Homo sapiens: one gene and its partner. The protein of the gene in region 2 purifies or fractionates together with the protein of the main gene of each other region. This does not show direct contact. Each region holds a gene or a part of one and is shown on either strand. Other genes may lie near its edges.

Region 1 (3,500 bases), on a different chromosome or scaffold from region 2:
TTTTCAGCATTTACAGCTTATAACTTCCTCTTACCAAGCAGAGGATAGGTATTATGTGATCCATGGGTCACAACATAAATGAAACTAATAGGATAGAAACCTATTCCTTGTGTATCTTGGAATGCTTTATTTAGTGACTTATTTGGTTCAGCTGACACCAAGGAAAGACGTCAAACAAATTTAATGTAAACATAAGGATTTGGAAACACTAGGAGAGAATAATTTGTATATAATTCTCTGAAGGAATCATAAAAAACAATTTTTGGACGTACACATTTTGGCACAAGATGCTTAAGTGCTGTGAGTTTCTGAGTTGGCAGTGGGCTGACTTTCTCTTTTGTCTGCAGGGTTTCTTTGTGTCTATCATCTACTGCTACTGCAATGGAGAGGTAGGTTTGTAGGAACCTTGGACAGGTCTCGCTTCAGCTTGTAAATGGCCATCACAATGTATCCTGAATCTCTTTAGAATTTCCAGGATTTCCAGGATGGAATGGGTGAGGAGAAGGAAGCTATTTTAATCATAAATTATTTTGGAAAAGAAAGAATTAGTGCAAATAACCTAAAGTCTTCCTCTTCTAGCACTTTTAAATGTGAACTCATCTGTACACTCTGACATTAAAAAGCAACTTGTTGGAATACAAACAGACACTTGGATGGACAGTGAACATCATATTCTGGTTAATACTTAAACTTCTATTCCATTTTAAGTTCTGTACAAAACTTATTAGTTTCCCTGGGACAAATTCATTCAAATATTTTGATGTTTTTTGAACTATAAGATGATGATGGGACAATTTTAGTTCATTTAGGAGTTGGCTGGAGAGAAGTAACTACACTAGATAATAATACATTTTACCTTGTAACTTTTAATATGCCCTGCTGTTGGATGAGCTGCCATGTTTCTTCTCTCAAATTTTAAGCTTGCTGCAGGCCCCAGAAGTGCACAGATACTTTTATTGCGGTACACCAGCTGATGCTTCTGACCATGTTTAGGGTTTGGACATTGTGGCATGCTAGTCCAGTGCTTGCAGAAAGAGCTTAAATTAATTTCCTGACTTACTTGTGTATTGTTCTTACCTTATTTTGCAGGAGGGGTAAGTAGGTCAGTTTAAGAGTTAAAGAAAGAGGAAAGAAACCCAAAAAGCACTCAACAGTCAAAGATGGGTTTATTTAGGAGAATAAACCTGGGAGGGGCTTCTGGCCAAGTTAGGTCAGAGAGCCTTCTCTCTTACAGACTAAGAGTTTTTAAGGGTTCAGGGTGGGAGAGCTTATCACAGGCTTGGACTGCTTCTGTATCTCTTTGTCTTGCTTATCTGGGAGGGAGAATTTTTGTGTTTTATCCATACATCTTCCTGCAGCTGCAGGCACAGCCCCTCCTACCCCCCGCCCCCCAAGTCTGCTTTTAGCTTCCATATCTTGGTGCACCTAAAGGGAAAGGAATGTATTTATTAGGACCCACTGTTTTACTGGGGTCCATTGTAGACTGTGAAGTTTTGTGGTTACCCAAGAGACTTTCTCCACTTCCTCTGTGCCCGAGCTGTCTTATCAGTGTTTTATACTGTCTGCTCTTTCTGGCTGCTTGTTGTTAGAAGGGAAGTGATTTCCTCAAAATGCATGAGGTTAGAAAGGGAGCTGGACTTAAAGTGGTGGTGTTTATCCAAGATGATGGTGCTTCTGCTCTGTCAGTCAGGTGTTGATTTGTTTTTGCCAAGATGAACAGATAGAAGTTTGTTGTTTCAGGTGACATCAGCATACTGGATTTCCACTGCTTCCCATGGAACTTCCAAATAAACTCTCTTCTGAAAAGTGGCAATTGAAGTAGAAATGAATCTTCAGTAGTAGGAATGGAAATAAGAGCCCCACCCTATTAAGAATGCATTTGCAGTGCCTGCTTTTCTATCCACGAGCCTTCTTTTCTCACTCTGACTCCTTTAGGCTGCCGATGCAGATTGATAGCATGACAGTTACATTTCAAATTGAGTACCTTCTACGCCATTCCTCAGCCTCAGCTGGTGCCAAAGACATCAGCAATTTAAGTGGTGAAAACAGATTTTATTCAGTAACTACTGACAGCAGGGGAAAGAGCTGAGCCCAATTCCACTTCACACAGAAGTGATTTGGGCATTTTAAAGGGAGAATGAGGGAGGTGGAGTGTAAGGGCTCAGTAGAGTCAAAGAAGTGAAAAAATATTTGGTCAGTATAAACACGTTTAGGCCAGCTGTGCTAGCAATCAGGCAGTTATTTAAGATAGAATTCTATCTTCCCACAGAGACTGGGAGACAAGAGGCCTTATCCCTCTTGATTTTTATATTTTGAAGGGATGGCTCTCAGGTCCTTGAGAGAGATGCTTCTGAGTTAGAAGAGCTACATATTTACAATTGTGAACCTTTTTAGTAAATGCCCTAAGAAAGGGGAGTCATGGGCCTATCATCAGGTGTGTGCTGGCTAGAGCAAATAGTAAATTCTCCTGGCAGCACTGAGCTTTCTCAGGCAGGCACTATCAATGGCTGAGATCATCCTAGGGATGCCACCTTGTGCTGCTAGAACCATGCTTGAGTTTGGGCAGGTCTCAGTGCAGGGGTTCCAGTGGGCTTGTCATGTGCCACGCGAGAGTTCTGAAGTTCTCACTGGCAATGTTTATCTTGAGTTTCTCTTCCAACCCAGAATCTCCTTTTTTTCCTCTCCCATATGTCAGGTATTTCTATGGGCTGCATTTAAACTTCTGTTTAAAGTCTGATCTTGGACAAGTCCCTTCACCTCTCTCTAAGCTTCAATTTGCTCACCTCCAAAACTAACACCTGTCTTGAAGGTTTTTTGAGGTTGAGAGAAAGTCATAGATAAAGTCCCTGGCACGTAGAGGAACCTCAATCAATGATTATTGCTGTCATTGAAATCAAGGCAAACATCTTTGTAACAAGGCTGCAGGGTCTCCTTTAGGATTTCTCATGCACAGCATGTTTCTCGTGGCTTAGGTTCAGGCAGAGGTGAAGAAGATGTGGAGTCGGTGGAACCTCTCCGTGGACTGGAAAAGGACACCGCCATGTGGCAGCCGCAGATGCGGCTCAGTGCTCACCACCGTGACGCACAGCACCAGCAGCCAGTCACAGGTGGCGGCCAGCACACGCATGGTGCTTATCTCTGGCAAAGCTGCCAAGATCGCCAGCAGACAGCCTGACAGCCACATCACTTTACCTGGCTATGTCTGGAGTAACTCAGAGCAGGACTGCCTGCCACACTCTTTCCACGAGGAGACCAAGGAAGATAGTGGGAGGCAGGGAGATGATATTCTAATGGAGAAGCCTTCCAGGCCTATGGAATCTAACCCAGACACTGAAGGATGCCAAGGAGAAACTGAGGATGTTCTCTGAATGGACATTTGTGGCTGACTTTCATGGGCTGGTCCAATGGCTGGTTGTGTGAGAGGGCTTGGCTGATACTCCTATGCTTGAGTTCAAAGGCTGAAAATTCAGTTAAGGTGTTACTTAATAATAGTTTTTAGG
Region 2 (3,500 bases):
TAACATCAAAATCATCTGCATCAGAATAATCTATTTAGGAAAAATCAGATTCATCAAATTAATTTTTGGCTAACAACTGTTAAAGAATGATGCTAACATCACGCGTAGGAATGCTACGTTTTCTAGGATTTGACATTTTCCGTGAGCTAGAGAGTTACTATATTATGTAAGTGGAAATACCATTACTAAAACCAGAATGCTGTAAATAGAATGATGTCTTTTGTTTTCAAAGTTGATATACTGGAGTAATGCGAAAATAATACAAGTGAGATATTAATAGTTCATGGCAAGGTTTTCTTAGGATGAATGCTGCAGCCTCAAGATTCTCCTGCGAGTATTCTTGGAGCAAACAAGAAGAAAATTAATCCAAGGCAGAAAATGCAATAATGGTAACTGTCGTCTAAGCCAAGCACTTTGGACATTCGTGGGATTACAGTAGGAGGGAGAGTCCTACCTTGTTGGAGGAATCAAGGAAGCTTTATGTGGGAGAGTCCTTGGAGATGGACACCAAAGCAGAATGAGATTTTTATGGGCAGGGATGCTTGGGGAGTTCTCAGGGGAGTGGGTTTGTATGCTGGGAATGTGGAGTGCATTTGGGAAGAATTGATAAGAATAAAATATAATGCACACGCTGTCACTCTTTGCTCAGAACTTATAATGGCTCCCACCTCACTCCTGATTAGACATCCTGACTCATATAGCTTCTGGTTACCTCTCTGACCCCATCCCCTAATGACTCCCTACAGCGTGGGTGAGGCTGCAATGTCAGCTGGGCACAGACAGTGGGAAGCTTGAGGACCCGAAGCATTTGCAGGAAGAGCTCATCCTTTATCCTGCAGGTAATGAGGGGTCACTGAATAATTGGGAGTGAGCCTTCTCATTCTCCCGCCTATGCTTTGGAGCACTTGGCTCTCCTTTCCCTTATTAAATGAAGCTGATTTCCTCAAGGAACAAGGAGACCATGGGGAGTGCCTTTGTGGATGACCGTATGCTACCGCTTTGCCCACTCATTCTCTGCACTGGTTCATTGCAGAATATAATATGGAGAATAGGCAGGTTTTGATGGCAGATGGCTACACCCAAGCCACAGATCGTTCTGTCACTTCATCCTTTGGTCCTTGGTGACAACAGCATCATTTCTTGGGGAAAAAGTATACTTTTCTTTTGTAGGAAAGAATGTTCATAAGCATATACTGTTTAAATTTGAAGGATGGTCGGGCAATTCTACATTTAAAAGTCTCACCTTGAATGCATTTTCTTTAAGTAGCTGTGATGTAGGTTTTGTTATGATTTAAAGCTCCAAGTTTCTGATAATCAATTATACTCTTTATATGTCTTTCTCACAGGGAAAGAGACATATTTTTTGAGGCTACAAGATTATATAATTCTAGAAAACTCATTCTCAAACTATTTCTTCTTTGATTCAATACATTTTTTTCAGACTGTTTACTGCTTTGTGGATTATTCTATATCCCCAAATGTTGTGTTTCTCTATTTATAATTTTAAAAGTCTTATTTGAAATAATAATCTATAAACTCATCCTATCATGAGAAAAGAGAGCAGTAGGTGTGTAAGTAATATTTCTGGACTCTGAAGAGAATTATAATTTTAGGTTTTATGAGGAATCTTACCCAAAATAAAGTATCAGTTGGTTTTGGAGAGGAGACAAGAATCAAAGTATTCTGTCTATAAAATTAAAATTAATTTCAGATTTGGAACTACAAGATGCACAGGGCACCAGGGCTAGAGGGGCCACAACAATCACAGAGCAGGGGTCCCCAAGCCCTGGGCTGCAGACAGGTACCAGTCTGTGGCCTGTTAGGAACCAGGCCACACAGCAGGAGGTGAGCAGCGGGTGAGCGAGCATTACCACCTGGGCTCCGAGCTCCACCTCCTGTCAGATCAGCAGTGGCATGAGATTCTCATAGGAGTGCAAATCCTATTGTGAACTGCGCATGCGAGGGGTCTAGGTTTTGTGATCCTTATGAGAATCTAATGCCTAATGATCTGAGGTGGAACAGTTTCATCCTGAAACTATACCCCTTCACCCCACCTGGCTTTTGGTGGAAAAATTGTCTTCCTCAAAAGCAGTCCCTGGTGCCAAAAAGATCGGGGACTGCTGTTTTAGAGCTCAAACACCCACTCGGCCCATGAGGAGAATCAGGCCCAGAAAGGTGCGTGACTTGAACTCTGGTCAGCCTCGGACCTCACCCACTCCCCTAGACAGTGACTTCAGAGTGATTTCGGTCATACCTAGCTTCCCTCCAAAACACCAGTGATGACAAAAACCCTGGCCCGTGATATGGAAAACTAGGGCCAGCAGGTTGCCAGACTATATATAGTAGGAGTGTCCTTTAGTCATAGGGAACTTGGCGTTGGCTTGAAAAAACAGCCCATGGCTTCCCAGCCCATGCCACATGAAGATGCATTGTCATGGCCACCTAAGAGAAGGTCGGAAAATACTTCATCCTGTCTAACCTCTCTGCCTCCTGACTCAGGGATTCAGAATTTGTACCTATGTAGAAATGGACAGCTGGCTCTTCACTGAGATAAATGCTTTGAGGGCAAGATACAGGGATTCTAATATATTCTGCAGGGTCAGAAAAGACTTCCTTCTAGGGAATAATCTTCATGCTTAATGGAAATTGTATAAATTAAGTACTTGCAACTCCCCTGCAAAAAGGAAGGGCTAGTGTTGTTGTTGTTGTTTTTTTTTTTTTAAAGTACTCAGAGTTATTTCTTTGTGCATGACATAAACATTAACCCAGATCTGATACACAAGGTCAGTAACCTACATGTTTCTGAGAGGGCCAATTGAGTTTGGAGACCTACTTAGAATTAAAGATCTGATCGGTGAATGAACTGACTTGCTTTTGGGCGTGGCCCTCTTCTCCCCACCTGTGAGGTTTCCTGTCTGTGTGTATTTCCACTCCACCCCATTCCTTTAAACAGCCAGGAGCTTTCTTCAGGAGCAGCCAACGCCTTCCAAAGGTCAATGTCCTCTAGTCCCAGAGAAGCTTCCCACAGCATTTTAACTAAACCAGAAAATGAAGCTGGACTTGATATTTCAAAAACAAAAGCATTGCAATAGGATATATCTTTATTTATCTATAGACTTAATTTGTCATTTGGCTTACCATCTTTATTTTGCTTTCTATACAAATGGCTAGATATGATAGAAAATACCAGGCCATAAGGACACAATCATTTTGGAGAATGGAGTGTAGAAAGAAGTGAGTTAAACCTAAAAAGACCCACAAAAATAGCATTGTTTCTTCTGCAATGTCATAATCTTTATTTTTCAATCTTTATATTTGTACGATAATTTATAATTTTCCAAGTGTTATAGATATTTCTATCAAACTTTTATAGATAAGTTGATGGAAAGTCAGAAAACTTGATTGGACAAAATGGGAATTATTAATATTTCCAGTTCCCAAACCATGCTCTTTCCAAAAAACCCTGCTACAAGGCTTGATGCTTGTATGAAAGTGAAAAG

What was found. The genes of interacting proteins can lie anywhere in the genome.
Region 1: the proteins of SPTLC3 (region 2) and PTH2R purify together in Homo sapiens (co-immunoprecipitation; one large-scale study listed by IntAct). This does not show direct contact.

What each region holds. Positions count from the first base shown.
Region 1 is NC_000002.12:208,490,292-208,493,791, forward strand, and holds part of PTH2R (parathyroid hormone 2 receptor isoform 1 precursor), read left to right. Parts: intron 1-347; coding exon 348-389; exon of another isoform or gene 390-494; intron 495-2,972; coding exon 2,973-3,368; 3' UTR 3,369-3,500. UniProt on the Homo sapiens protein: This is a specific receptor for parathyroid hormone. The activity of this receptor is mediated by G proteins which activate adenylyl cyclase. PTH2R may be responsible for PTH effects in a number of physiological systems.
Region 2 is NC_000020.11:13,067,972-13,071,471, reverse strand, and holds part of SPTLC3 (serine palmitoyltransferase 3), read right to left. Parts: intron 1-3,500. UniProt on the Homo sapiens protein: Component of the serine palmitoyltransferase multisubunit enzyme (SPT) that catalyzes the initial and rate-limiting step in sphingolipid biosynthesis by condensing L-serine and activated acyl-CoA (most commonly palmitoyl-CoA) to form long-chain bases.